Regions from separate parts of the Homo sapiens genome. Here all the other regions are reported to be linked to region 3. Evidence: microRNA targets listed by miRTarBase, many of them from high-throughput screens and not tested one by one. Region 3 holds a microRNA gene; each other region holds the end of a gene's coding sequence.

Region 1 (10,105 bases), not on the chromosome of region 3:
GTGTGGCTTGGGGCCTAGGTATGCACTGAAGAGGGTTTGTACCTTTGAAGAAAAGTGTGGAAGAGGGAATTGCCAGGCTTTGTATGGGGAGATGTGCGTATTAGGAAATAGCCCCTAGAGAATGCTTGGAGAAGCAGAGCTGGATGAGGTGGTGACGTCCTTGTCCCTTATTCACCTCTCACTTAACGGCCCTGACTTCACTCTGGCCTCCTCCAGACCCTGCCAGTCAGCCTGGCAGGGGCTTTCCAGTGTTCTTTGCCTCACCCTGGGTACCAGGATAAGGAGACTGTTCAGAGGGCTGAGGTTCTCTGAACTTGTGACTTGGCTAGAAGGGACAGAAGTGGACAGGTGGCTGGTTAAAATAGGCCTGGTGGCTTCTAGCCAGAGGAACTTAGCTGACCTGACAACCTCTGGATTCCCTCATTCTATATTCCCATTAAGGACCCAGGGATCTCCTCCCGACTCCTACTCCATGTGCACTAGGGAATCTGAGGCACTTAGTTCCCAATGATGGTAGTTGCTACAAATAATTCTTGGGGTGAAGGTTGCGTTGTGGGGGTCGTTTCTTTGTTCAGTGTAGCAGGATAATATCACAGTTAAGAGGGCAGCTTCGGCCGGGGGTGGTGGCTCTTGCCTGTAATCCCAGCACTTTGGGAAGCTGAGGCAGGTGGATCATGAGGTCAGGAGCTCAAGACCAGCCTGGCCAATATGGTGAAACCCCGTCTCTACTAAAAATACAAAAATTAGCTGGGCGTGGTTCGCGCGCCTATAGTCCCAGCTGCTTAGGAGGCTGAGGCAGGAGAATTGCTTGAACCTGGGAGGTGGAGGTTGCAGTGAGCTGAGATCGCGCCACTGCACTCCAGCCTGGGCAATGGAGTGAGACTCCCTTCTCAAAAAAAAAAAAAAGAAAAAAAAAGAGGGCACGTTCTTGGGTTGAACTGCATTGGTACAATCCTGGCTCTATCACTTCATTGATTCTACTTTTTTTTTTTTTTTTTTTTTTTTTTTTGCGACGGAGTCTTGCTCTGTCACCAGGCTGGAGTACAGTGGTGCGATCTCGGCTCACTGCAACCTCTGCCTCCTGGGTTCAAGCCACTCTGCTGCCTCAGCCTCCCGAGTAGCTGGGGCTATGGGCACGCACCACCACGCCCAGCTAATTTTTATATTTTTAGTAGAGACGGGGTTTCACCATGTTGGCCAGGATGGTCTCCGTCTCTTGACCTTGTGATCCGCCTGCCTTGGCCTCCCAAAGTGCTGGGATTACAGGCATGAGCCACTGCGCCTGGCTGATTCTACTAATATCAACTGACCACTTTTGCTACTGTGTTCTAGGCACTGGGAATACAGCCATGATCTAGACAAAATCATATTCTCATGGAGTTTTCATTTTAATTAGGGAGAGAAACAACTTAAGATAATTCCTAGCTGTGTGGCCTCAGTTTCTTTAACCTTAAAACAGGTATAACAGTAATATTATGGTTGTTTTGAGGATTAAATGAAAAAGGCCAGCGTAGTGGCTCATTCCTGTAATCCCAGCACTTTGGGAGGCAAAGGCAGGAGGATCACAAGGTCAGGAGTTTGAGACCAGCCAGGCCAATATAGTTAAACCCCGCCTCTACTAGAAATACAAAAATGAGCCGAGCGTGGTGGTGCACGCCTGTAGTCCCAGCTATTAGGGAGGCTGAGGCAGGAGAATTGCTTGAACCTGGGAGGCGGAGGTTGCAGTGAGCCGAGATCATGCCGCTGCACTCCAGCCTGGGCAACAGAGCGAGACTCCATCTCAAAAAAAAAAAAAAAAGAAGAAGAAATAAGCCTAAATTACATACATAGTACCTGTGGTAAATGTTCATTATGTGCTCCCTGTTACTGTTACTGGGGAAGGCTTCCTTATCAAGGGTTTCAATCCTCTTTTGTGCTATTTGTAGGTAATTCAGTACCAAACTGTTCGATATGATATCCTCCCCTTATCTCCTGTGTCCCGGAATCGGCTAGGTAAGTATGTGGTGGGAAGCCTCCTTTAGGGTGAAGTAGGGGCTAGCTCTGGGTCAGAGGTCGGTCAATATTATTCCTCCCCACTCTGGTTCAGCCCAGGTGAAGAGGAAGATCCTGGTGCTGGATCTGGATGAGACACTTATTCACTCCCACCATGATGGGGTCCTGAGGCCCACAGTCCGGCCTGGTACGCCTCCTGACTTCATCCTCAAGGTGTGTGGTGGTGGGGAGTGATGAAATGGTTCCATCTGTTCCTCTGCCCAAACCTGGACTCCCTTTCCCAGTCCCAGAGCATCTGTCTCCATCCGCTGGCACCAGTGTCAGCCTGGAGGAGGGAAGCAGATGGGTGGGGCGTTTTCTAGGCCTGGGTTGTGGTGGTCATGACATCCCCCAGCCCATCTTGTTCCTCTGTAGGTGGTAATAGACAAACATCCTGTCCGGTTTTTTGTACATAAGAGGCCCCATGTGGATTTCTTCCTGGAAGTGGTGAGTTTTGGAGAGCTAAAGGGAGCTCTGTAATGAAGGAATGGTTTTAGGGCTCTGGGAATTGGGAGGATTTGGAGGAAGGGGTGAGGAGAAACGGGTTAGAGCAGTTTTCTAGAGGGGAGGCTGTGTAATGGTAGGGGAGTGGCTTTCAGTACTTGGGGTTCATTTGTTGTGCTGATGTAATTCTTTTCCGCTGGCATCTTTCTCTTTTGTTCTTGCATTTCTGAATCATAAGAGTGTAGGATGCCTAACACTGAGTTTGGAGGTTTGGGCTGGGGGTTCAGAATTTCGTGTCCTCAGAGACATTTGATGTTGATGGAAGGCCTGAAGGACTATGCCATTGCCTTTCTGAAAGATAACTGTATGTCTAAAGGAATCATCACCTTGTATGGCATCGCCCTCTCCCCCAATCTATTTCAGGTGAGCCAGTGGTACGAGCTGGTGGTGTTTACAGCAAGCATGGAGATCTATGGCTCTGCTGTGGCAGATAAACTGGACAATAGCAGAAGCATTCTTAAGAGGAGATATTACAGACAGGTAAGCTAGAATCCCAGTCTAAGAGTGTGGCTTGGGAGGGAGGCCACCAGGGAGGGATCTGGGTTTGAGGAGAGTATCCTGGAGAGAGGCCTGCTACATGATCCCCTGCCTTCCAGCACTGCACTTTGGAGTTGGGCAGCTACATCAAGGACCTCTCTGTGGTCCACAGTGACCTCTCCAGCATTGTGATCCTGGATAACTCCCCAGGGGCTTACAGGAGCCATCCAGGTACGGGGGAAGGTGGTGAGTCTGGCAGGACCAGAACATGGTTCTGAGAAGGTATTTTTGCAGGAGACCTGGGCTTTGGTCCTTGAGAGCTGGGATTCCCTAGATTATCCCTAGTTTGCTGTAAGTCGAAATGCAAGTTATTTTTGTGTTTCAAATGAGATACCATATATGTCCATTTCATAAGTCGGATTTCTTATATCATTTTTTTCATTTTTAAAATTTATTTTTGGCTGGGCACGGTGGATTATGCTTGTAATCCCAGCACTTTGGGAGGCCGAGGCAGGCGGATCACGAGGTCAGAAGTTCGAGACCAGCCTAACAAACATGGTGAAACCCCATCTCTACTAAAAATAGAAAAAACTAGCCAGGCGTGGTGGCGCACGCCTGTAATCCCAGCAACTCGGGAGGCTGAGGCAGGAGAATCGCTTGAACCCGGGAGGCGGAGGTTGCAGTGAGCCGAGATTGCACCATTGCACTCCAGCCTGGGTGACAGAGCGAGACGCCGTCTCAAAAAAAATAAATAATAAATAAATAAAAATAAAATTTATTTTTATTTATTTTTTGAGATAGGGTCTCACTCTGTTCCCAGGCTGGAGTGCAGTGTCATGATCATAGCTCACTGCAGCCTCGATCTCCCAGGCTCAAGTGATCCTTCTGCCTCAGCCTCTCAGTAGTTGGGACTACAGGCGTGCACCACCATGCCCAGCTAATTTTTTTATTTTTTATTTTTTTTTGAGACAGAGTCTCGCACTGTCACCCAGGCTGGAATGCAGTGGCGTGATCTCGGCTTACTGCAACCTCCGACTTCCAGGTTCAAGCAATTCTCCTGCCTCAGCCTCCCAAGTAGCTGGGATCACAGGCACCTGCCACCACGCGCAGCTAATTTTTTGTATTTTTAGTAGCGACGGAGTTTCACCACGTTGGCCAGGCTGGTCTTGAATTCCTGACCTCGTGATTCGTCCGCTTTGGCCTCCCAAAGTGCTGGGATTACAGGCGTAAGCCACTGCCCTTGGCCAATTTTTTGATTTTTAGTAGAGAAGGGATCTCATTATGTTGCCCAGGCTGGACTCAAACTCCTGAGCTCAAGTGATCCTCCCACCTCGGCCTCTCAAAGTGTTGGGATAACAGGTGTGAGCCACTGCGCCTGGCCAAGTGTGTTTCAAGTGAGGCACAATGGCAGTAAGCTTGACTAGAAGCATCAATAGGTATGAGATCTGGTGATTAAAACTTAGTTTCGGAGCATAAACCAGGAAAGTTTTACTTAGGTTGTTGACTTCCGGTAGTGGGAGGCATATATTTTTAACAATAATTCCTCCTTCCCTCCAAGAAGAGAAAAACACCGTCTCTCTTGAATTCTGTTTCTTCTCATCTGCATTTTCACCCACCCTAGACAATGCCATCCCCATCAAATCCTGGTTCAGTGACCCCAGCGACACAGCCCTTCTCAACCTGCTCCCAATGCTGGATGCCCTCAGGTAAGGGAAGTGGGCTCTGGACACTTGGATATCTCAAGAAAGGAGGAGGTGGGGGATCCTCAGAGGGAATAAAAAAGGTTTGTCCTGTTTTAACTCTGTTCCCTTAAGAATTTAACATTTGGACCCAGGTCGTCTTACTTCAAAGCTCATCACTTTAGCTAGTAGGCTGTGGGCAAATTGAACCTATCTAATCATGAATATGGTGATAATTTAGGTCCCACATCTCCAGTGATGCTGCCTTACAAGAGTGTTGTGAGGGTATGAACTATAAGGTACTCTACCAATGCAAGTTATTGTCACCCCAGGTTCACCGCTGATGTTCGTTCCGTGCTGAGCCGAAACCTTCACCAACATCGGCTCTGGTGACAGCTGCTCCCCCTCCACCTGAGTTGGGGTGGGGGGGAAAGGGAGGGCGAGCCCTTGGGATGCCGTCTGATGCCCTGTCCAATGTGAGGACTGCCTGGGCAGGGTCTGCCCCTCCCACCCCTCTCTGCCCTGGGAGCCCTACACTCCACTTGGAGTCTGGATGGACACATGGGCCAGGGGCTCTGAAGCAGCCTCACTCTTAACTTCGTGTTCACACTCCATGGAAACCCCAGACTGGGACACAGGCGGAAGCCTAGGAGAGCCGAATCAGTGTTTGTGAAGAGGCAGGACTGGCCAGAGTGACAGACATACGGTGATCCAGGAGGCTCAAAGAGAAGCCAAGTCAGCTTTGTTGTGATTTGATTTTTTTTAAAAAACTCTTGTACAAAACTGATCTAATTCTTCACTCCTGCTCCAAGGGCTGGGCTGTGGGTGGGATACTGGGATTTTGGGCCACTGGATTTTCCCTAAATTTGTCCCCCCTTTACTCTCCCTCTATTTTTCTCTCCTTAGACTCCCTCAGACCTGTAACCAGCTTTGTGTCTTTTTTCCTTTTCTCTCTTTTAAACCATGCATTATAACTTTGAAACCAAAGCGGCCTTAGGTCCTTCTCTGGGGTTTTGGGAAGTGAAGAGAGGGGACTTTGTTCACATGCACCCTGTCCCACAGGCAGAGGGGGAAGAGACTGCTGTTGGACTCAAGGGGCAGGGGGAAAGGTGGCGTTGAGTATAGGGATAGAATAATGCGGACACCAGATGCCTGGGATACAATAATGCTGACACCAGATGCTTTGGCGGGAAGGGCCGAGTGACAGGATGGGCGCGCTGGTGGGGAGTGGAAGGACACCTTCGGAGAAGCAGGCTATGGAAGCACGAAAGGAGAAACCGGCTATGGAAGCACGAAAGGAGAAACCTGGACGGCCAAAGGGCGTAGAGCTGGAGAAACCGGGCTTCGTCCGGGGCACTGACGTGGACAGGTTAAGCGGGCGCTGCCCCCAGGTGGCTGGCGCCCCGACCTCCGCTGTCCGGGAAGGCGTCGGTCCCCCTCCCAGCTGTCGCCCAGCCGGCCCCGCCTCCCCGGCGCCCTCCCAAGCCGGCCCTACTTCGCGCACCCGCCACGTGACGCTCCGCCCTCTTTGAGATCACATGATTTAACTCAAGTCCCGCAGTGTTCCTCCGCGCTGGCGTAGTCCCTACCTTTCCAACCTCCTCTCCAGTCCCTATTGGTCTACTCATTTTGGCACTTAAGCGTTCTGTAGATCTCTCCAAACATCTGTTTTCTTTTTGACTTCTTATTTCTGGAGATCATCTCCGCCACTTGGGTACTACTTTGTTTTGGTGTCAACGGCCGCCTTCAGCGTAGCAACACGGTTCGTGAATAGCTAACCTTGTAATTGTCCCTGCTGTTCCTCTACGTTGTTAACGAAAGGAACTTGGAGAACCAAGTCTCGTATGATGATTACCATCTTTTACTCCTCTTCAGCCCCAGCTTCCTTGAGGGGACGGTTGGGGAATAGGTTTAGAGTAATTTTCGATGAGCAAAAGCCAACCGTCTTTGCTACGTCGCCTGCGTAGCCCACAAATTGATTCCAAAGCGATTACGCTAATGGCGTGAGGGGGCCGGTCAGTTGGTGGTGCTACGCTAGCAGCGTTAGCGCCGCTGAGGTAGTGGCGTATCTTAGCGGGGGGGGCAGTCCCCGATAGTCGGGGGCGGGGTTGGTGAATAGGGAAGTGGCGCAAATTCGTGGATCGCTCCGCTGAATCCGCCCGCGCGTCGCCGCCGTCGTCGCCGCCCCCCGTCCCGGCCCCCCTGGGTTCCCTCAGCCCAGCCCTGTCCAGCCCGGTTCCCGGGAGGATGAAGTTCGTGTACAAAGAAGAGCATCCGTTCGAGAAGCGCCGCTCTGAGGGCGAGAAGATCCGAAAGAAATACCCGGACCGGGTGCCGGTGAGGACAGTAGCCAGGGCCGAGGGCGCGGGACGCTTACGCTGACGCCACAGCCTGGCCTTGGATCGGGACAGGCAGCGCAGGGATCAGGCTGCTGGCTGTGGTGGGGTTGGCAGCGAGCCTGAAACTGCTGTCCTTGGGACCCAGGATGAAAGGAGTGGGGTAGTGGTGGATGTGGGGTTGAGAGGGATGTGGACAGGAGAGAGAAACCTTAGCATTTGAGGCCTTAGAGAGTTTGACAGCCTGAGCTTCAAATGGTCATCCCCCCAGCTAGCTAAGGTTGCGAGATTGAATCACTAGTCGACCCAAACAAGTCACCTCCGTCTGATTAAGATAGTTGTTTATGGTGACGCCCTATTGGGGGATGGATCCTGGATATTTAAATGAGCTCCAGTCAGTGAGGTCAGGATCTCTGGGACTCAGTGCTGCACCGCGTGTACAAAGACAAAGAGATGAATCTGGGGTAGATTTAGGTGCTAGGAATATTGTTTCTTGAGTTCTTGACAGGTGCAGCTTCGGGGCTGCATTCCTTCTGTCTCCTAATTTTCATCTCTTTATCAGGTGATAGTAGAAAAGGCTCCCAAAGCTCGGATAGGAGACCTGGACAAAAAGAAATACCTGGTGCCTTCTGATCTCACAGGTGGGAACCTGATCCAAGACTCAGGCTTGCTTCCTGTGGGTGGGAGTGCAGTCTCTGCGGGAGGAGGCTCCACCTAGCAGCTGTTCTTTTGAGGGCATTTTTGACCTCTGTGACTTTCTTGCATCTTGTATCTTTTGCAGTTGGTCAGTTCTACTTCTTGATCCGGAAGCGAATTCATCTCCGAGCTGAGGATGCCTTGTTTTTCTTTGTCAACAATGTCATTCCACCCACCAGTGCCACAATGGGTCAGCTGTACCAGGTATGGTGACTGGGAAGTGGTGGAGGCTTTGGAGAGGAATCTTGGAAGAGCGTGAGGGGAAGAAAGTGTTGTTACATCAGTAGTTTTGGACTAGCTTCCTGGCTTGCCTTAAAGTTTCATAATAGCCGTGGGTTGGGGGTTTGGACAGAACAGTAGGAGTAGAGAGAAGGAAAGAGAACAGTGAGCTAGAGAAACTATCTGTTCGGGACTCTTCCCAGTCCCCCTCCCCATTCCAAAGCAGCAGAAAACAGTTTGAGGCCTTTTTGCCCAGGACTGCAGAGATTATACTGCTCGTGTGGTAGGCCTTGGAGTCAGTGAAGGAGTCAGGCAATGGTTTGTGGTTCTAGAAGAACGTGTCTGGGTCGTGGTTGGTTTAAGTTACTGGAGCCCAGTTGCTGAACAGTTTTCTGCTTTCATCCCAGGAACACCATGAAGAAGACTTCTTTCTCTACATTGCCTACAGTGACGAAAGTGTCTACGGTCTGTGAAGCTGCTGCCCCTGAGCTGGAGGGGGGTCTCATTCTACAAAGAGAGAGGTGGCCCCCCTTTCTTGACCTCCTCCTCCTTCAAGCTCAAACACCACCTCCCTTATTCAGGACCGGCACTTCTTAATGTTTGTGGCTTTCTCTCCAGCCTCTCTTAGGAGGGGTAATGGTGGAGTTGGCATCTTGTAACTCTCCTTTCTCCTTTCTTCCCCTTTCTCTGCCCGCCTTTCCCATCCTGCTGTAGACTTCTTGATTGTCAGTCTGTGTCACATCCAGTGATTGTTTTGGTTTCTGTTCCCTTTCTGACTGCCCAAGGGGCTCAGAACCCCAGCAATCCCTTCCTTTCACTACCTTCTTTTTTGGGGGTAGTTGGAAGGGACTGAAATTGTGGGGGGAAGGTAGGAGGCACATCAATAAAGAGGAAACCACCAAGCTGAACTGAATTTTGCCTTGTGTTGCTCCCCTCGTCCCGCTGATTTTAAGTCTTTCCAAGGTGTCAGTGGGTTTCAGTGGTGGGGAAAGAAGAGTACTGGGTACAAGCTGGAGGGATAGAAGTATATTTTGGTTTATTCTGTTCATGTTGGGCTTTTCCCTGTCTGCAAAAAGAGGGTGCTTTTGTTGTGATGGAATGGAATACTGAGGATTATTTCTTGAAACTTTAGTTTTATAACACGCATGTGAAACTAAATGTTAAAAATGCTCATGTAAAAAAAAATTTTTTTTTACTGTGGGTTCCTGTGGAGAAAGTTCCGAAGTACCTGCTTTAGGTGAACATCCACATTTGCTAGAACATTCTAACTAAGATATTTTCATGTGTGCAAGCTAGTAAAACGGCTGTTCTCAGTTGCATGTCACTTGGCTAGACTTTTGCCGGTGTGTGGGATCCGGCAGAGTGGAATCAGGGAGGGAGAAGACTGGGAGCGGGAGCCATTATCGCCAGGAATACTTCAACTCCCAGCAATCATTTCTCCGGCAGGCCGGAAGTGGGGCGGTCCTCCTGGGGAGAAAGAAGCTGCAGAACGAGGCAGTATGGTGGCCGAGAGTTCTAATCCCTTCTTCCTCTTCTTTCTTGGTCCCGCCCAGCCTACATCTCCCAGGGGCCTGCGCGCGCACTTCCGCTCTCCCCTCCGGCTCCTGGTCTCCCCGCCGCTCCCCGGGGGAGGGGAGCGGCTTGGTGCGCCTGCGCCAGCCTGTGGCTTTCTGGGAATCAAAGTTCCGGAGGTTCATGCGGTCCCTTTTCCGCTGTTCCCGGACGGACTACAAAACCCTTGGTGCACTGCGCCTCGGCGCCGGCGGGGGGAGGAGGGAGAGAAGAGGAGGGAGGGAGGAGAGAGGAGGTGGAGGAGGAGGAGGAGGGAGCAGGCGGCCGGCGGCGCGGGGGGAGGGGGCCCGGTCCGGGAGTGCGGGAGGCAGTGGTAGAGGGAGGTGGCGGCAGCGGCTAGCGGACTCGAGTCTCAACCGGGCTGAGGCGGACACTTCTGTGGAGCGAAGCAGTGGGAGCATCGAGCACTAGAGGCGGCACCGGGATCCCCGGCTCCGGGGAGGGGGGCGCCGGACCGGGAGGAGGGGAGGGGGCGATGCTGGAAGCCATGGCGGAGCCCAGTCCCGAAGGTGAGCTCTCGACCGGTGCAGAGCGCTGAGCCGGCGGGGGGCGGGCGAGGAATCAATTGGCAAACTTGGAGGTCGAGCCCCG
Region 2 (10,105 bases), not on the chromosome of region 3:
CCACTTTCAACACTTCCACTGCTATAACCACCAAGCCACCTTCATCCACCTTCTGGATTATTATATTGGCTTCCAGACGGGTTGCCCTACAGTCTATTCACGGCCCCAGAGTAATCCTCTTAAACCTAAGTTAGATCATGTCATTCATTTGTTCAAAACCTTCAAAGGCTTCCCAACTTATTAGAGCAAAGCCAAGGACCTCGCAGTGGCACCCGATGCCTCTCATGATCTGTCTCTTTAGTTCTTTATTGTGTCTGCAGTGCTGAAAACAGTGCTCAGCAGGGAACAGACACTCAGTAAATAGCTGTTGAATGAATGAATTTATAAGATGCCTTATTGTTTACAAAGTACTTTTACATCTTATCTTCTGGTTATTCATCTTCACCATAGTCTCATGAAGCACAGATTATCATATCTGTCTTGCAAATCAGTAAACTGAAGCAAGAGAGGCTGACCTGCCTGAAGTAATACAGTGGTTTGTTGGTGGAGGCTAAACTAAGTCATAGGTTCATTCTCTTAAGTTGGGGCTTTCTGCTCTGTAGGGAGCTGTCTCTGCATATGGCAAAGCACAAAGCTGAATGAGGTCTGGACAAAGAAGCTCCACTCGCAATCTAGAGAGTATCTGGACTATTGCAGTGATTAAATGAGGTAATGTAAGGCACTTAGCACAATGTATAACACAGAAGAAATGAGAGTCGTTGTTACTTTTATTATTAAATTGTTATAAGTTGGTTGATGCTGGTGGTTGGAGAGTTTGGGGTAAAGGGCAATGGCCAGAGATCTAGAAATGGTTTAGGAAAAGCGTCAGGAGCAAACATGACCCGTTGGGACTGTCTGCTCTATGTACACTAAAATAAAAAGATAATTTTTAAAAAGCCATTTTGTTAGTAAGGTAGTTACTAATTAAAACTAACTCCTTTAATGTCTACATAAAGATGGATTATCCCTTTTTCCTATACCTGAAAACAACTGGGCCAGCCATAGAAGGGCCAGAGGTATGTCAACTAAAGCATTGGGTAAACGAGGATGGATTTTTTAAAAAGAGAGAGACGAAAGTCAGGAAATAAAGGGGTGTGTGTCCCTAAGTGTGGACAGAGTCCTGGGCAGTAAGGATGGAGAGGAGGGAGAGCCAGAAAAATATATGAAGGAGAGGAGGGTAAAGGAGAATGGGAAAAAGACAGGGAGAGAAAGCAGGTAGGGTTTTATGCCTTCAGCCTAGCTGTTAGTATAATAATAGTTAACACTTATTGAGTGCTTATTGTGTGCCAGGCACTGTTTGCAGCATTTGAGGATCTCACGTGAGATTCCTGAGGCATGATTATTCCTGAGGGTTTGCTCCACCTTCTCTGGTTTTGGTCCCTGCACTTTGTGGTGTGACTCCGGTGCCTCCTGGTGAACCACATGCCTGTCCCACTGATGTTGACTTGACCACTGATTTGAATTGGCTGACCGCATGTGACTGGATGCAAGGGGTACATCACATCCCAGAAGAAACTTCAAGTCATTGTGTTTCTGCCAGGACTCTGCTCTTTCCCTCTGCCTTGAGAATAGCATGTCCCAAGTAGGGGCTGCCCCTTTAGTCTAGGAACCAGGATGATAAGACACATGGAGCAGAGCCACAGAAGCTCACATGTAACCACAACGGTCCCACGTAATGTTAGAGAAACAAATGCTCTTGTAACACTGAGATTCTTGGTGGTATTATTGCATTAAAGTTGACTAATGTACCTCCCACCAACCGTAAGAGATAGGAATTGTTATTATCCTGTGATATTGTGAAATACATAGTTGATCTTCTCCCCGTTTCCTGACATACAACTTCTAAAATCCTTAGAATCTCCAAAGTGATGTCTTTTTATATGCTGATGAGTTGACTGATGCCTGGCAGCCCCTGGGTAGCTTCAGGATGGGGCTGGTCACTGGAAAGACCACAGCAGGATTAGAAGGATGGCAATTTCAGCTCCACCCCATCAACATCTGGGGAGGAGGGCAACTGAAGGTGAAGTGGATCACCAATGGCTGATGGATTAATCAATCATGCCTGTGTTACAAAGTCTCCATAAAAGCTCCCAAAGGACTGGGTTCAGAGAGCTTCTGGATACCTGAACACATGGATGTTACTGGAGGGTGCCACCTGGGGTCGGGGGGTGCAAAGGGGAAGGAGTATGGAAGCTCCGCACCCTTTCCTTCATACCTCACTATATGCATTTCTTTTTCTATATCCTTTGGAATATCATTTGTAATAAACCAGGAAATGTGTTTCGCTGAGTTCTGTGAACCGCTCTTGCAAATTAACCCAAGGAGGGGGTCACGAGAATCCCAACTTGAAGTGGGTAGTTCACAAGTTCCAGAGGCCAGGGCTTGTAACTAATGGGAAGGGTGGAGACCATCTTATGGGACTGAGCCCTCAACCTATGGGAGGTGATGCCATCTCCAAGTAGATAGTGTCAAAACTGAATTAGAGGACACCCAGCTGGTGTCCCTGCAGAAATGATTGCTTGGTTGGTGTGTGGGGAGAATCCCTCACCCCGTTTGGTCACAGAAGTCTTTTGTGATTATTGCTGCTGAGTGAGAGAATAGTAGAAAGCACTTTGTTTTCTTCCACACAGAATCCCCATTTCACAGATGAGAAAACTGAGGCAAGAAACTCGCCCAAGGTCATGCACATTTGTAAGTGGCAAAGCCAGACTTTGAAATCAGAAAGCCTGGCTCCAGAGCCTATTAACCTCTCTATAACAGTCTATCTCCCAAATGGGATTCTAGGCAATTTTTATGCAAATTAAATTATTGAAAATGGTCACGCATGATATTTACAAAACACAAGGGAGAAAGGGAACAAGGGTGTGGGAGGCAGGGGGTGGACACAGTCTGGGCATCTTTCTGCACATATTTCTGGGGATTCTGGCCCAAGAGAGGCCAGATCCCTTAGTGGCTGGGACATCTCTGGGAAACTACCCAGCAGGGACCAGTGTGTCCCTGAGCCCAGTGGTATTTGAAGGGTTCATTCCAGGAAAAAGAGTCTTCTGGGGTGAGAAAAATCCTGGCAAGACAGTTTCATTTTCCTATGTCTTTGTCCCCTGCACACCACTGGCTTGCGCACACACACACAGACACACACACACACACACACACACACACACACACACGCTGTCTCAGCAGGGAGCACTGCTGCCTTGGGTCTGTGTTTGGCAACATGGATCCCCAGCCCAAGTGCCAGAAAGGCAGTTATAGGTGTGGCTCATGTGCGGTAACAACAGTGGTCCGTCTCCCACCAAGAACTCTCAGCCCAGGGATCCTGAACAATGGTTCTTTCCACCAAGCCTGAGACTTGGCTTTCTGTTTCCTTTGGACTCTCTGGGAAAGAAAACCCTGGGAGTTCCCATTCCTAGGTCTGAGAAAACATCTCTGTTAAAAGTTGACCAGGAGGGCACAGGGCCCTACCCTGCACAACGTGAGTCTCAGGCAGGGCACGTGAGCAGCTAGCCTGATCCCAAACAATCGCAGCTCTCAGGGCCTAAATATAGCCCATGCATCTGGCTGTTTTTATACTCAGTTGCTTGGCTCTGATCGACCAAGCTTCCTGTCTGATCACCACTGAGGAACTGAGGGCAGGGGGATGCTGCCCACCACTGCACCTGGCAAGGATATCCCGCTGCCCCTCCGCAGCTGCAAGGCACCTGCGTCCTACACACCCGGGACACATTTTGCAGGGCTGGTTCCTCCACAAATCATCTGGTCAGACTGGATAAGCTTTGGGCCTTGTTTCCATGGGACTAAGGGGCCAGATGTATCCTGGGTGAACCCTGGCTCTATTTTGCCAGTGGGAAGGTCTTTATTCCATTTTCTGGTAAACATTCCAATCCGGTAGCATATGGTTATCACCAAAGAAAAACAAGATGTTTTTGATCCCTTCTGGTAATTTGTTCTGGGCAAACAAACTTGTTTTTCCTGAGTCCAGTCCTTTTGCAATCATGCTGATTTCATCCTGTGCTGTTTATTATTCTCTCTGGTTCTTGAGGCCTGGCCTGGCAAGACAGTCCTATTTTAGGAGACAACACTCTCCCATAGCAATCTTTGCTTTATCTTCGGATACGTTTATTACCTGAGACACTAGGTAGCCAATGGGGCATATGAGAAATACCCTAAGCTCTATGTAGAAAGAAAGCGGGAGCTCCCCACAGGAACCAGTAGGAAACCACAGAGACCAGCCTCTAACGTTTGAAATTATGGGGTTGAGGTGAGCTGAATTTGCAGCTTTTCAGATTGCCTCTGAACAGCAAATATGATGTTGATTTAGAAAAAAAGGTGTGAACTCCTCAGCTGATTGCAGAAGTGTACCTTTTCCCTTTTTCTGAGCCACTTGCTAGTGATTTTTCTGACCCATAACGTTCAGAAATTAGATTGATAACACCTACTTTAAAAGTGAACTTATCCGAAAAGGCCTTAAATAATATTGTAATAACTTTCAAAAGCAAACCAACCAACCAAACAGGCTGGTACTTAGGGAGGGTCTCCTGCTCCACTGGCTTCCTGTGTGCCAGGACCTGGCCTGCTCCTAGCTGGCAGGTGCATCTTGGCCTGTGACGCCACATGCACTTCTTAGCCAACTCTGCCTTGGCCTCCACCTCACTCCCAGGAGCTTTGCCGGTTCGTTGCTCAGCTGATCTCTTGACCCTTCCAGTGTCTGGCCTTCTTCTCCTGATGAGAAGACCCCTAGACACAGGACAGACTGGCTCCATCTTTGTGCCTCCAGGGCTGAGCACAGGCCTGGCACAAGGCAGTCACTCAGTTACAGCTGAACAATGGGACAGGAGCTGTCCTCCACCTGAGATTGTAAATAATAGCTTGGGAGTACAATTACCTGGGAGCTCCTGTTTGATTTGTTTTGTACCCTCTCCTAGGCCCTGCTTCCATCCCACCTGAGCCCCTGGCCTGGAAGATTCTTGGGGCCCTCCTGATGCTAAGATTCTGTGACTCGGGGTGACTCTATTGCTCATCATCCAGGTCACCTCTAGGCTCCCACCAGTGACGCCTGCGTGTTCCATGGCAGCCTCTCCTCAGGCTCCACCCTAGTCCCCAGGGCATGCACAGAAATGAAGGAGTCATGTCGGCTCCTAGAGCAGCGAGTTGTGGCTCTTCTGCCAAACATGGCCACACATCCTTTAGGATAAGAGTTTCAGAAGTTAGAGCCGGGGGTCAGGGTGGATGCACAGAAAGCAAAAAAAAAAAAAAAAGCTTGGTTCTCACTTCTTCAGTTCAATACAGCACACCTTTATTGAGCACCTAAGGATCTATGCTGCCAGAGGAGGGCAGAGTCGACAAAACAGTGGGCAGGCCTCCCCTGCAGCTCTCTGTGTCTGTGATGATGGAGCTGGGTTGGGGAAATCCTGCTGTGACATTTGCCCTGACGCAGTTCCGCACAGCATGGTGGCTTCCAAGCTATGCTCTTGATGGGCACCCGTAAGGAGCTTCTACATGCATTAGAGATGGAGCCTCTCCTATCTTTGCAAGCCTTTGTGGTTCTTCCCTTTAAATCTGCCATCCACGGACCTCAACAGGAGAATAATTTGGTCTTCAGTTTGCTCTGTTTTAGACAAATACTTCACATGACTGATGTAAACTGTTGCATAGTTTCGCAAAGGCTTTCTCATTCATTCCTGAAATTCTCCATCAGTCACAAACACAAATTGTTCAGTATCTGGGGAATTCAAAGCCCTTTCCTCAAAACAGACATTTCTCCTTATCATTCTTCCTTCAGGGGAAGTATTGAAAGTCATTGAAAGTCATCCCCACCCACTAGAGGAGAGAAACGCAAGCCCAGAAAAGGCAAGAGGTACACAGGCATCCACGGGACAGTGGTGATGGGGCTGAGCACTGCCTTCCAGAGCTGCTGCTGGGCATTGAGCGGGCAGCACCCTCTCAATGCCATGTGGACCCTCCTCAATGTGATTGAATGACCGTGTTTCTTGCAGCAAGCTCCTTGTAAGAATCGCTTTAGGTCTCTCTGATGAAGTAAAGATTGATTTCTGCAGAGAAAGTGAGATACTTGTGGCCTTATTCCTGGTCTCACCTCTGTGTTGGGGCTGAGCTGTGCGAGGCTCACAGGGTGATATTGGAGGCTTAGAAGCCGGGGACACTGTGGCAAGGTGATGGCTGAAAGCAGGCTAGATCTCATACCTGCTGGCAGGCCCTGCTTTTCCCAGCAGCATTCCTGTGGGGCAGCGTGATATGAGGGCAGACAAGAATCTCATATGAAGGAAGAGGACAGGGGCTTGTGGACCCACAGGGGCTCTGGGACAGGCAATGTGCAAGCAGATGAAGCCTAAGCCGCAGGGGCTGGGCCAGCACTGCTCTCCAGTGCAGGAGAGGCATGGTGTGGACAGGGCTGGCCACACAGATCTGACCCAGCAAGTTCCTGGCCCCTCAGGCCTGGGTCGGCTTCCTGTGGGTGCTCATCTTGGAGCCAAGAGCTGGCTGTGGGAATCATGGTGCTCAGGCTTCAGAGAGGTAGACACACAGGCACTCGATTCGTCAGGCGGTGGCCATCAGTCAATGTGACCGGCCGGGGCCAGCAACCAGGGCTCAGTGTACACCTGCCACTGCTGGGGACTTTGGAAGAGGCAGGTGTTGGCCAGTTACTTGGCCTCCACCAGCTGCTCCAGGCGCTGCAGCATCGTCAGACGCAGGGCTTGGAACCTGGAGGGAGACATCGCCAAGAGGACTCACTGAGGCCAGACAGGGCAGGGAGGTGGGCAGCAGAGCAAGGGACCTGCAGATGGCCAGCTCAGGAGATCCCTGCAGCAGCCTCATCTCTCCTCTGCCAAGGAGGGGGAAGGCTGTGGCCTGCGCCTCATGAGGTGCAGTCAAACCAGGCTGTGGACTGCACAGAGCATCAGAGCAGAGTGTTGTCATTTCTATTGCAGACTCTAATACAGACAACAGCACACTGGAGTGGACAGGGCGGTAGAGCAGAGATCGGGAAGCCCATGTTTCAGCCCAGATTCTGCCATAACCTATGCGGCAACCTTCCTTGTGCTGGGCCTCAGCGTCCACTCTGTACGTTGAGTGGACCCACTAGTTGCCCCCCAGATCCCTTTCAGCTCTCAAATCTTACGGGGTCAGGACTGACTGCAGAATGGAAGATTCCCTCTGACTTTGGTCTCCTCTGCCTGTTTGGGGTCTGGCTGCACAGACAGGAGCCTGTGGAGGATGTGGCTTTCCACGGGTCATTCAACCAGAGGCTAACATCCATCCTTTCCCCACACACCCCAGGCCCTCTCAGTGAGCTCCTGCCCTTTCCTTCCTAGCTGCCTCCCCACCAGCCCTGGTGGGGTGCCCTCCACAAGTCCTGGACCACACTTCACTTTGCTGAGGGGGAGACGTCATTGGGACTACAGCCTGGCTAACTCATGCATCCGGACCCTGGCGTGGTGTCCCCAGGAGCTGGCAGGTGAGACCTGCTCACCTTTTCATTGAACTAGCCCTCTGCACCTGAAAACATCGGCTGAGGCTGGGAGTTCCAGCATCTGCCACTTTGGGGAAGGCTCAGAATTCCCACTAGGACAAAAGGCCCTAATCAGGCCAAGTCTGCCTCAGCATGCCTGCTCCTTGGAGCCACATCACCAGCAGAACTCAGAAGCTTGACCCAGCGCCCACTTGGGTTCCTGCCTGACTTTCCTGCCAGGTGTTCTGCAGCTCATGCCTGCGCTGGTGAGGATGCCAAGACTGGATGGGTGATCGGGGCTGTGTCCCACTGTTTTGGCAAGCTGTCACCCCAGCGTGGTGGCAATACCGAGCAGGGGGCCAGAGGGTGATGCTGGGGAGCTAGGGTTAGCAGGCCTTCCCGTACCAGGGTACTGGTGCCCATGGAGGAGAGAGACCTCCCAGCCGGCACTGGTGCTGTGCTTTGCAGACCTGCCCTGATGTTCAGGACCCATGACTGTCTGTTTAAGTGCTGCTTACTTCATGGTCAGTTTGATTATTTCTCTTTCTTCCTCTTCTTTTAATTTTTCAACAAAACTGTCCAGCACCGGCATTTCAAACTTAATGTACTGAGCGACCTAGAAAATCCAAGAACATTTTAATGTGCTTTAAATTCGAAGCCAAAAGTATGTTTTCTTTTCCTCAAGGCTTCCATAGTGGCCCATCCAGCCAACATCTTGTATCCACAGAAGGAGCTGCCGCTTTTCCCACCCCACCCCCACACTGCTGTGTTGTGTACAGATGCCAGGACGGGAGCCTATTACTATCTCAAAGGCAACTGTTATCCCTGGGAGGAAATATTAAACTGAATATTAGGAAGAGCATTCAGTACAGCAGCATTGTCACATTGGGTGCCCTCTGGGCTAGGGGGTAGGGAGGTGGGAGCACCATTGTTTCTAACAATGGAATGCAATTGCAGCAGCCTGAGGGATACGGGGTCACTAGGCCTCCTACTTGAGGTTCAAACCCTGTAAGCATCTTCTATGCAGAGGAGTTTGGAAATGCACTCACTGTCTGGTCAGAACTCAGGCTGTTGGTAAGACTTAAATATCTCCCTGTTTTCCACAGGTGCGAGGTAGGGCCTAGTTAAAAAGCCTTTGCATAGGTCTCTCACATAATGACAACAAAATACATTCCAATGAAGGAAAAGACTTTACTTCCCTAGAGGAAAAGGACAGGCCATGGTTTTATAGGACCCAAATTCTTCTTTCCCCTAAGCTGCTGGTGCTGGCGGTCACTGATGGGAGAGGGAGGGCTGGCGCCTCCCTGTGCTAGGCTGGGAGCCCTTTGGGAGAGTGTGGAGCTCCTGGAGACATCAACTGACAGGGCTCTGGCCAGGAGTCCTTGGGAGGCCCCGTCACCCAAGAACCCCTCACCCTAGAGCAGGCCTCCCCAGCCTTGGCCCCCACTCACTTCATGGGGGACTTCCACGCCCAAGTCAGCTTCCATCAGGAAGATCCTGGCGATCTTCTCACATGGCCCATGCAGGATTCTGGAAATCAGCGGGTACTCGCAGTCTTTTAATTTTGTCCGCTCTGAAAAAGAAGGTGGTTTACAAAAATCACGGGAGATTAGGATCACCTCTGTCTGTTCCAGATTAGGAACTGATAGAAAATGTGCGTCTAGGGGCGCAGGGAACCCTAAGAACACAGACCTCGCTAACAGCGCTGCCCTGAGAGATTCCTGCTCATGCAGAAGGGAGGCAGAACAGGGCCCCCAGATCTGCCACTTTGGCATAAGGATTAAGTGGAGCGGCTGGCAATTGAGAAGAAGAAGATACAAGTGAGGCTCTTTGCCCTCCCCTATTTGCCAAAAAGCAGGACATAAATTTGTCAAGGTGTGCCCCCGTCCCTCTCTAGGCAATGATGGAGTTAATCACCAGAGACAACCCGAGCCCCTCCTCAGCCTGGAGAGGGCACCAGAGGAACCTGCACAGCACGTCCCGCTGAAGCCCTTCCCTTCCCGCAGCTCCCCGTGCGGTGACCTTCCCACCCTTCGCCTCCCCAGAAACTCAGGCCCTTCTCCTCTGTCTTGTCACTTCTCTAAAAACTTACTGCTCTTTTGTGAATATGCTATTTAAGCCCAAATTCTGACCATTCATCCCTGGATATTCCAAAGGGCATGCATGATGCAAGTGTTAACAAACTTCTGTTTGTTCTTCTCCTTAATCTGTCTTTTGTTAATCTAAATACAGGGCCCCAGCCAGTGAACCTAAATGGGTAGAAAGAGAAGATAATTTTCCTCCCCTACAGTGTCATTCAGCAAAGGTGCAGCTTGAAGAGAAACAAGATCTGAGGGGTGGGAGAAAGGAAAGCTGAGACGGGAGGGCCAGGGCCTGATGCACTGCGACACGCACCCCACCCTTCCTGACTCGGCGCCAAGGAGCTAGGTACCCACCCATCCATTTCTCTGGAAGAGGCGGAGAGGGAGGCTTCCTATAGCTTGGTGGGATTCTCCTTCAGAATCCTGAAAGAATTAAACTTAATGTACTGAGCGACCTAGAAAATCCAAGGACATTTTAATGTGCTTTAAATTCGAAGCCAAAAGTATGTTTTCTTTTCCTCAAGGCTTCCATAGTGTGCCTGGGTTTGGGTGGGGGAGAAATGTTCATGCTGGGAGGCAC
Region 3 (10,105 bases):
GCATTAGATGATTTTTTCCCTTCCCCACTCCTTTCTGGAAGCTCGCATCAGCTGAAGGCTATCGCCTGGGACTCCTCGGAAGCATGAGCAAGCCGCCACCACGCGAAGGCACTGGGGCACAGCCAGCGCGAGGCGCCGAGGTCCCTTCCCAAGGCTTGTTAACACTGTAACCCGGCACTCGGAGAGAAGAAGCAGCTCACACTGCCCAGAGCCTACCTCACTGCACATCAGATGACTCCCTGGCTTCTACACACAGTTGGAGTTCCGCTTGAAACCTGGATTTAGAGGGTAAGCACTTCAATCGAGATGGATTTGTGACAGTTACTTTGCCATACAGCAAGACAAATCTCAGCAAACGTAAAGGATGTAGGATGTATGGCAGAGGCAGACTATGTTTACATCGAAAAATGTGTTTCTTTTTGTCTGAGAACGAGAGTATTATTCAGTAAAGATGTGTATACTCTTTTTCCATTGACTGTAAGAGTCGACTACCACCCTCCTCCCGATTTTTTCTCTCTCCTTGGTGTTTCCCCCTTTCTACTTGAGAGGGAAGGAGAGAGGGAGAGGGAGGGAGTCAAGGGGGAAGAGAAAGAGGGAGAAGGGGGGGAGAGAGAGAGAGAGAGAGAGAGAGGCATTTCAGCTTTAGCTTAATTGGCTTATTTCCTCAAACCCATTGCTTTGTCGCGTTTCTTTATGTATTTTTGGTTGCAAATTGCGAAGCGATTAACTGGGATGGGTGTTGGAGTATGGGGGATAGCATAGGAAAGTACTGGGAACCGTCAATCAGTCGCGGTGGCCTTGAGAGATCAAAAGGTGCTGAAAGCCCCCTGCCCGCAAAACACACCTCTAGTTATTGGGGCGCGAGAGAAATGTAGATTCTAATAAACATGGCTTGCAGGAGTCGATGAACAAAGGTACTTAATGCGGACCTAAGCCTCCGCTGATATTGTTCCGCTAGCAGTATCTAAATATTCAAAAGCGAAGTGTAAGTTGATCAACAAACGCCCTGATGGTATTGGGCTTTTTCCCTTTTTTGTTTTTGTGTGGAGGGTGGAGAAGGGGGGGAGGGTGGATGGGTGGGGGAAATCCGACAGCTTAAGGAGGCTTGAATTGAATATGCACCCAGCGGCAGTGGTCTCGTAGGAAATGGTGTTCTCGTAAGTCAGGCTGCCCCGCTCAAGCACGAGAGAGCTTTGGTTAGAGCTCAGAGCGTCAGTTCTGCTGCGAGTGCTGCCGGCAGTCGGCCCGGGTTGAGCTGTCCATTCGTCCAGGTGCTGAAGCTGGTGGAACATTGGGTAGGTAGGGAAAAGGCTGGCACTGCTACTTGGGTAGAAAGAAAGCATATCAACTGCGTTGTTCTAGTTTCTTAAAGCGTGCGAGTCTGTGGGTCAGTGTGTGTATATATTTTATTTTAATTGTGAGGAAGCAAAACTGAAGGAGACTACTTGGAAAGCATTGAAAAGCTGTGTGGGTATTTATGCTGTGATTCTGATGCCCTGTGTATTGGGGTGTGTGTGTGTGTGTGTGTGTGTGTGTGTGTGTGTGCCTCCCTTGACCATCCTTTTGAGTTTATAACGTTCCATTTACTAAATCCAAGCCTATCTGTATAGTGTGTTTCTTGTTTTCCTTTTAATATTAGTTGAGATTTAAATAGAAGAGTGCAGAAGCAAATGTACACTTTGCTCATAGACTATTGCATTACTTTCCCTAAGGGCTTTTGTTTCTAGGAGTTCAAGCTGAAGAGAACCTGTCAGCTTTCTGAATTTTTTTTTTGTCTAGCACCAGAGAAAAGCTCCACTTTATACCTATGTTAGGTAACAACAGAAAATAGTGCTTATTTATTTGTTTTATTGGTATCTGTCCTTTTGTAAGTGGTGTACTTAAGAGTTATCTGAAAATAATGTAAAACAGTCTGGTAGTTGGGCTATATTGGTTTTCTTTCTAGTTATTTTAGGTTCAGACATTATATATTAAACATCTATTCATAAAACCTAGAATTCATGTTGATTTTTCCATCTGTAAGTAACATGTCAAGAAAATGATGAGTTGGTGTGCCCGGAGAAGTATTATAATTTTTAAAAAAATAAGAGCAAACACAACCTAAGCACCTTAAATTGCAACCAGGTCAGTTAGAGATGAGTTGTGGTAGTGGGAGAGATTCTGTTATATAATTACTCCTTGATGAAGAGCTATTTGCACTTACATAATTTGGGAAATCATAATGTCTATTGCCATGTTTCCATATTCCCCCCCATTCCCCTTACATGGATGTACTTTCATGTATTTGAGAGTAAAGGGGAAAGCAAATTGAGAACTTTCTAAGGAAGCTACACCATGTCTTGGGTAGTGACGTTGCACTTGTCCATTTTATTTAGTGAACAATAAACCCCCATTATCAGAATATCCACTGCAGGATCTTAAGACAAAGCTTTTCCAGTAAGAGCCATATTGATCATCAAAGAATCACAGAGATTCTCTCTCTGAATGCCAAAATTACAGTCACTTTGCAAATGAGTTTTTATTGGCTTTTTCTTCTTAAAATAATATTTATGAACACAGAGCTTCAAAGGTTTTTCTGTAGAGGTGTCCACAACAGCTGTACAGCAATGCATTTATAGTATATATTTTAAAAGTGTGCTATGAAATTAAACATTGTAGTGATATAAAATGATGCTTAAATCATAGAAAGTCTACCAGCTTGTCAACTCAGTGAGTTTTGACACTATGGAAAATGGGTTTAATTACTGTGTGCCTTCAAGCTTTTTTTTTTCTTTAAAAATCATTATGTTGTATAGCTATAAGGCCTTCAAAGGAAAGACGCCTATTTTTGTACATCTATAAGTATTTGATTTCAAGTAGTAAATTGAATGAGTGTTTATTTTCCATGATCTTGGGCTTGAGAAAAGTGCATTTCCAAAACACACTACTGAAAATTTCACCCATGCATGACCTATCTTTATTTAAGCCTCACTTCTTCCCAAAGCCGTCTAGGCAAATATATTTGTATTTGTGTGGGTAACTATTCACGTCTCTTACAGGGTTCTCTGGCCGCCATGGCACTCAATCATACCACCTAGAGTGGACTGGCCGAGACCAGACTGGGTACCAAGCAGAGAAGTGCAGAGGAAAGCACTGGGAGAGCACCAGGTAAACTGAAGGTTACTTGTCACTCCCACTTGTGCCCAAAAAGCCTTGCCACATCTTCCCTCCTCACTGGAAAGACAGCACTCTTCTGTGTTAAGTATTTGATTTTGTGATTTGTCTTTCAGAATTGGAAATAGAGCGGCCATTTGGATTTGGGCAGGAAGCAGCCGAGCACAGCTTTGGATCCTTCTTTAGGGAAATCGAGTTATGGATTTATGGTCCCGGTCAAGCTCAGCCCATCCCCAGGCAGGGGCGGGCTCAGCGAGCAGCAAGAGTTCTGGTGGCGGCGGCGGCGGCAGTAGCAGCGGCAGCGGTAGCAGCGGCAGCGGTAGCAGCGGCAGCGGCAGCTTGGTCCTCTGACTCTCTTCGGTGACGGGTATTCTTGGGTGGATAATACGGATTACGTTGTTATTGCTTAAGAATACGCGTAGTCGAGGAGAGTACCAGCGGCAGGGGGGCAGCGGCCGCCCTCCCCAGCCCACCAGCTGGCCACTAAACGCCCGTGGTTGCCAAGGTAGCACTTTCTTGTTCTTTTCATTTCCTCGGGTGTTTTCGCACTGGTTCCACCGGAAAGGCTGTGCGCTGCGCCTCTGGTGACCAGGACTGGAAAATGGGTTCGCGCAGGGGGCGGGGGGCGAGGTGAAGGGGATGGGCGGGGAGCGGAAGGGGGTCCGTTTCCCCGAGCCTGCGGGGCGGTTCGGCGTTCCCAGTCCGCTCCTCTCCTCTCCACGGTGGGGTGCGGCTGGAGGGAGAGACGCGGACGGGGCGATTTTCTAAAGTTGGGAACGACTGAAAGGCCTTGAGCAGTTTGGGAGCGTCGCGAGTGAGGCGCCGAAGCTGGGCAGAGGGTCGCTGGGGGCTGCCTCCGCAGAAAGGGCGTGTCCGTGGGCGAAGGTGCCCCCGCAAGCCTGCGGAAGCGCGTGACTTCGCGAATCCCGAGCCCGGGGCGGTGCCGGAGCCCCACCCCCGGCCGGCCGCGCTGCTCCGCAACCAGACTTGGCGGCCGAGATGGGGAGGGGGCGGGGGCCCGGGGGCTGGGTCCCCGCGGAACTTCCAGATCGGAAGTGTGGCGGGTCTCTCAGGAACGCATATTTTCTTTTCGGATTCTCCGAGAAGGGGTGGAGAAACAGGATGGGAACCGGATTGGTTGCAGTGTGGCACAGACCTGGAACCTTCCTGAAAGAGGTTGGGGCAGGCAGTGACTGTTCAGACGTCCAATCTCTTTGGGACGCCTCTTCAGCGCTGTCTTCCCTGCCTCTGCCTTTAGGACGAGTCTCAAACACCAACAAACGCAAGGCACGTCCCCCCTCTCAGGTCAGCTGCGAAGGCGTGGGAGCAAGAGAGAGCCTCTCCCTCCTTCTACTTAGAGTTTTTGTTTGTTTGTTTGTTTGTTTGTTTCAAATATTAATGGACGATAAAACAACACGGATTTGTCACCTCCTAGCGAAGAGGAAGCCACCGCCACCACACCCCTCAAGCATGCCTGGGCACTCCTGGGGACAATCGGACGTGGCAGGAGTTGGCATGCCCAAGATGAAGCTGGGAAGGATGACCCAGAGTGGAAGGCGTGGGCTGGGGCTCCAGGTCTCAGCTCTCGCCAGCGTCGGACCACACAGCTTTGCCAGCTTTGCACCTTGCCTTTCCTTCTTGTGAGGCATCTGGGACCGTCCTATCAAGGCGCTTCAAAGGTGGAAGGACAGAGTGCTGGGGACAAGAACGTACCAGGCGCCCAGAAGATTCCACTAGCGCGGCCAAACACTAAGACCAGGTTTCCTCCCTGCGTGGTGGTCGTTGGTTGTGCACGGGCTACGCACGAAGACTGAATTCCTGAGAAATGGAAACTGCAGGAGAAAAATCAAATAAACTTAGAGGCCTGTGAAGCTCTCCCTCTTGTCGCTCTGGGACCGCTCTAAGCTGAGCTACATCTCAGATACCTTCTCCCCCTGGAGGATGGGCCTTTCTCAGGCACGAAGTGCGTGTGCCCCACTGGGCTCTTGCCCACAAGAGCAGTCTGAACCCTGGAGAGGCTGACACCGAGGTGTCTTGAAGGAAGCAGGCACACTCTCATGCTTCCCCACCTAGGGTTTCGCCTTTCTTCTAATATTTAGGATTCCCAGTGAAGGGTACTCCACACACACCCTCTGCCTACCCCTAATCCCACCCCATTGTGTCTGATCCCACAATTACTCCCAGGGTATCTATACTCACAGCTTTTGCGCTCAAAGAACATTGTCGTCTGCAGGGAACGGGTGGAGCCCTTCTCAGAAGCTCCCGGGGGCGAGTCCATTTTAAGAATGAGTTGAAGTAGGAAAGAAAACACAGATGCTGTCTTTGCATTCGACATTCTATCACCAGCAAGAGAATATGTAACTCCTGTTCTTTCCTTCATTATTCCATGAATTACCTTTTTTCTCTAGGGATCTACCAGTTGGTGATTTAGGGCTTTTAAATATTATGCTTGTTATGTATTTAACAAAATGCAATATGTCTACTGGTGGCATTGTTTCCTTGGGAAATTAGAAAAGTAGAAGCTACATACTCTAGTTCCTAGGTGGTCTCTGGAAAGTTGGCCTCATGCTGGTTGGCTAAATAATAAGTGTTTAGGATTTGAAAGGAAGAAAGAGAGCTGAAGTCCTGGTGACAGAGTTTGTGAGAAACAGAAGATGTAACACTCTGGCATTTGTTGAGGAGATGAGGAAGAACTTTTGAAAAATAAGCTATTCTATTCAGTTTTGTGCAAATTTATTGCAGTTGCTTCATAGAGGAAGAATAATGTTGAGAATGGAATAATTGCAAATGCTAGTGATGAAATCTAAAGGAAACCTCTACTCATAGTTAACTGAAAGTATTTTTGTTGTTGTTGTTTAAATACTTATCTCATTGCTTTCTTTCCTTTGCAGAATTATTTTCCTATAATAGTTTCCATTAGGTGTCAGTCTGAACTGGTTCTTACTTAAGTTAGGGGTGAAAATGTTCCATCATCACACCTTTTAAGATAAGAAAGTGGGAAAAATTAAAACTTTATTAAGTTGAAATTACTGGAGTTAATTTTTATTGTTAAAGACAGCTTTTTTATTCCCAGAAAAAGTAATTTTAAATTATGTCACCACTAGTCAATGACTGCTTTTGCCCTGTCACTGTCCATAGCCATGATTAAAGAAGTACAAAATGCTTGTTTGTGCATTTCATGCTAGATCCAAGTAGTGTTAAGTAGTCATAATTTTTGGATGGCTTTTCAATTGATGTCCTAAGACTAGAAGGGTAAGCAGCCTTTTCTAATATTTCTTTTGCTTTACAAAGGTGATAGAAATTTTTCCTGAAAAAAGGAACATGGATTCAGCTTAAGCTGTTCATTTGACAATACTGAGGGCACAGTAAAGGAGGAGGGAGACAAATTGTGAAAATTACTTATGTCCACTAGTTTTACTTTAATAAATCCTGCTTAAATACTCAGAATTTATGAATACAATTTATGATATATAAGTGGGATATTTTAGGTCGCCCATTTAAATTTATATAATGTCTATAAATGGTCAATTTTATACTATAATATTCATTAATAAGCATAAGAAACATCATCTTGATTGGTCATTTGCTACTGAGTCCCAAGTAAGTAGCTTGATAGAAACTGCATTTTTCAGAAAATTTGCTTATTTTATTCTTTGTATTTGTGAATTCTGTTCTGATGTTGTTGCTTGAATAAAATTGTGGGGAGTGGTGATGGTATTCGTGGTTAAAGATCCATAGAGCATTATGACAACCCCATGAACTTTCCCTGAGGCCATTGTGAGCCCTAGAATGATGTGGTTCTTGGTGTCAGAGCAATGCCAATCTAGAACCAGAACAGAGGTCCCAGTGAAAGTCCAAGCAAAGGCAAGCAACGATGAAGTAGCATTTTGATGGAAGGAATATTCCAAAAACCCTATTATCAATTTTTGTCTTATTATATTCCACATTAGTCATGAGAAATTTTCAAATTTAAAAATAGACAACAAAATTAGAGATGATGGGTATATTGGGAAACATTTTTGTGTTTTATGTAAGACAGAGGAGAAGTGCTAAGGACATAGAAGGAAAGACAGCATAAGGCCATCACAGTTGTTCACCATCTTGTCAATATGTACAGGTGCAGCTACCATTGTATCACGGAAATGACAGAATGATGTTCTTACTGTGTTGGAAAGTAGTGTATTCTGCATGGGAGACTTACTGTTTAAAAGTAAATTTCTTTTGGATATATTTTCCGTAAGAAGAAAAAATATAATAATGACATCAGAATATTTAAAGACTTTTAAATCATTTAGCTATTGAATTTAGTTATTGATAGCTGTACAGCTATATACACAAATGGTAAGTAGAGTTTAAGCAAATAGCTTTGTAGTACAATTTGTTTTTTAAATGTTTTCAGATTTTTATCTTAGTGCTTATACTTTAAATCTTGACTTACAAGTCTTGCATTTAAGTCTAGAAAACATTTTGCATGATTGTATAAAATAAACATTTTAGTTGAGGAAACACTGCAGTTCATCCAAAAAACATAAGCTAAAAAGATATAATATTTTAAATTTCTTGAAATGTGTTTGTTACCCAGTAATTAGTTGAGTTTGTTGAGTGCAGCCTAACAATAAAATCAGTGTATCTGTATGTTTGTATTGTTGACCAGCTTAAAAATTTATTACCAACTGTATCTTGTGAGTTCTGGGTTCTGTTACATCCTGGCTAATAATAATGTGAGCTAAGCAAGGCAGTCTGATCTCCAACACAATTAAAATATTATAATACATATGCAAGGGTAAAGACAACACTTCATTTGCTTTATTTGTGGAAAAGCCCTTTGAGACTCATAGTATTTGAAAATATATATATATATAGTAGATCAAACTAGAACCAAATGTTAAAAACCTACGAGTTCTAAAACATGCAGTTCAAAGATTTTAAATAAGGGTTATTGCCTTTATTAATTTAAAACCAATACTGAATCTCATTCAGTTAAATTACAAACTAAAAAAGACATATTGCTGGAATCTATTAATACTATGTTTCCAGTTCAAATGAAATTTGTACTATAATATGCTTTTTAAAAAGTTGACAAATTATATTACAATAGTGACATAATTGCATAATTTGAAAGTAGGGTCTATTTGTAAACTTGAATGAAATATGTGCTTTTTGGAAACACTTTTTCTGAAAAGATTATTTTTATAAAAATGATACATTTTAATTGGAAAGTTGATATTTCTTGCAATTTTGTTTTTAAAATTTGTATTCAATACATGAGTGAGTATTAATTGAAGCCTATTTTTGTCTCTCTAAGCTAGTGTAGTCAATTTCAATAACTGTTTCAAAGAAGTCTCAAGATAAACTAAAAATTACTCATTTAAAATAGTTTTTTATATATCTGCCAAATAGTCCATTAGTTTTTGGATTCCAAGAAGAATGAATGAATGAATGAATGAATGAAGGTCATGCCTACTATTCTGTCAGAAGCAGATATAAGAAAAAGACCTTTTCCTTTGTAATAGAAATATATCATGATAAGACTTCCAAATATCCTGGATTGTTTTACAGATAACTACACAGGAATTAAAGTTATAGAATGATTACTTTATGGATCCAGTTTCATGTTTTTTTTTCCATAACTGTTATTTATATAGGCTTTGGTGTTTACTGAGACAAAGCAAATTTGAGAATTGAGGCTCTTACACGGAGAAATCTCAAATTTCATTTTGTCCCTCAATTACATGATACTTAAGGAGTGAGGTATATCCTGTGGTAGAAAGAACTTTGGAATAAGACTAGAAAATCTGTTTTCGAGTACAGATTCTGTTGTGAACTATGACAATGGACCTATCACACAGCTTGCCTGGTCTTCACTTGTCTCATCCATGAGAAGGGCTAGATTTAGATTCGCTTAAGGCCTTTTTACCTCTTTAGGATTCCATTTCAAAGAAAGCCTTTTTTTTTTTTTGTATGAATTCTACACTTCATTTCATGTAAAGATGGTGGGCCAACTGATATCACAACTAAGACAGAAGCTTTTAAAAAGTATTCACCAACATTTTGTCTTAGTATTAAATAATAAAATGGTCCTTAAGATTTTTACTTAAATTCTTAAAGCATGAAACACATGGAAATATTTGTTGCTTTTTCATGCTTCATTTTTTATTTGAAGTTTTAGTAGGGAAAAAAGCCCCAAAAGAATGCTTTACAGATTCATTCTAATGTGTTAGCATGGGAGTACACGTATATGTACATCTGTATAATAAATTTGAAGCTACTCAAACCGCAGATCTATCTTCATAAGCATTTTAGCCTAATGAGGCCAAATCACAAACAACTCCATTCAAAGTTGATGTATATGATTGTAGTGGATAAAGAATGAACATGAACACTTGGCCTCTAAAAATGTTTACTCCTTGTGTAAATGTTTATGCTATTAAATTCAATTACAATATTTGGAACGGCATGAAAATTACTGGTTTTTTTTTCCATTCTGTTAAAAGGACCAATAATTGTCGAGGATATTTAATTCTTCTAAAATGGTTAATCTTTTAAAATACCTAGTCCAGTGTTTGGCACATAGTAGGTGCTCAAAATATTTATGAATTTTGTGAAAGCAGTGATATCCTTTTGGGGCATACGTGAATATAAATTTTACATTTTTTCATAATTATTTAAAGTCACTATTATATAAAATGATTGTTATACAGCATATATTTGTTTAATTTAATGTTAACATAAAATTTAATTCTTTAATTGTTTACTAATAGTGCAGTTATTCTTTGCCAAGAAGGAAAATACATTCTCTCTGATTATTTGATATAACTTTTAAATAACGGAAAAATCCATGGGAACATTGCTTTCAAGCTGATATTCTTTTTGAAACTCCAAGAATCTGTTCAATCTACTATTGAAATAGAAAATTTTAGTCCATGTGAATGTTACCTAATGTATTTATTTA

The links. Region 3 holds the annotated microRNA hsa-miR-2682-5p (CAGGCAGUGACUGUUCAGACGUC, at 4,337-4,359, shown strand). A microRNA usually pairs through its seed, bases 2 to 8, with sites in the 3' UTR of a target mRNA and lowers its output. Matches are read on the target gene's strand: a 7mer-m8 pairs with bases 2 to 8, a 7mer-A1 pairs with bases 2 to 7 and ends in A, and an 8mer does both.
Region 1: the mRNA of CTDNEP1 is a reported target of hsa-miR-2682-5p. Seed matches in the 3' UTR shown: 7mer-m8 at 5,174-5,180.
Region 2: the mRNA of RASSF4 is a reported target of hsa-miR-2682-5p. Seed matches in the 3' UTR shown: 7mer-m8 at 4,776-4,782.

What each region holds. Positions count from the first base shown.
Region 1 is chr17:7,239,164-7,249,268 of GRCh38, reverse strand. CTDNEP1 (CTD nuclear envelope phosphatase 1) reads left to right here. Exons shown (of 8, transcript NM_001143775.2): 2 at 1,926-1,992; 3 at 2,087-2,205; 4 at 2,407-2,478; 5 at 2,899-3,015; 6 at 3,132-3,243; 7 at 4,634-4,718; 8 at 5,024-5,678. The coding sequence ends at 5,084. GABARAP (GABA type A receptor-associated protein) reads left to right here and starts at 6,820. Exons shown (of 4, transcript NM_007278.2): 1 at 6,820-7,028; 2 at 7,590-7,668; 3 at 7,809-7,927; 4 at 8,350-9,261. The coding sequence starts at 6,939. The coding sequence ends at 8,415. PHF23 (PHD finger protein 23) reads left to right here and starts at 9,812. Exons shown (of 5, transcript NM_024297.3): 1 at 9,812-10,023. The coding sequence starts at 9,990. RefSeq lists silencers at 6,058-6,167, 6,758-6,947, 9,545-9,684, 9,735-9,914 and enhancers at 6,560-7,111, 7,112-7,663, 9,345-9,434, 9,562-10,105.
Region 2 is chr10:44,989,860-44,999,964 of GRCh38, reverse strand. RASSF4 (Ras association domain family member 4) reads right to left here. Exons shown (of 11, transcript NM_032023.4): 9 at 8,896-9,017; 10 at 7,963-8,060; 11 at 4,074-6,696. The coding sequence ends at 6,636. LOC124902530 reads right to left here and starts at 5,929. Exons shown (of 3, transcript XM_047426129.1): 1 at 5,794-5,929; 2 at 5,024-5,160. The coding sequence starts at 5,929. It overlaps ZNF22-AS1 (ZNF22 antisense RNA 1), which reads left to right. Exons shown (of 4, transcript NR_126421.2): 3 at 543-648; 4 at 5,759-6,033. RefSeq lists enhancers at 7,241-7,740, 7,741-8,242, 8,272-8,963.
Region 3 is chr1:98,039,561-98,049,665 of GRCh38, reverse strand. It overlaps MIR2682 (microRNA 2682), which reads left to right and starts at 4,315; the gene lies at 4,315-4,424. LOC124904228 reads left to right here and starts at 4,163. Exons shown (of 1, transcript XM_047437906.1): 1 at 4,163-8,752. The coding sequence starts at 4,276. The coding sequence ends at 4,797. It overlaps MIR137HG (MIR137 host gene), which reads left to right. Exons shown (of 5, transcript NR_046105.1): 1 at 1-288; 2 at 3,039-3,147; 3 at 3,270-3,658. MIR137 (microRNA 137) reads left to right here and starts at 3,495; the gene lies at 3,495-3,596.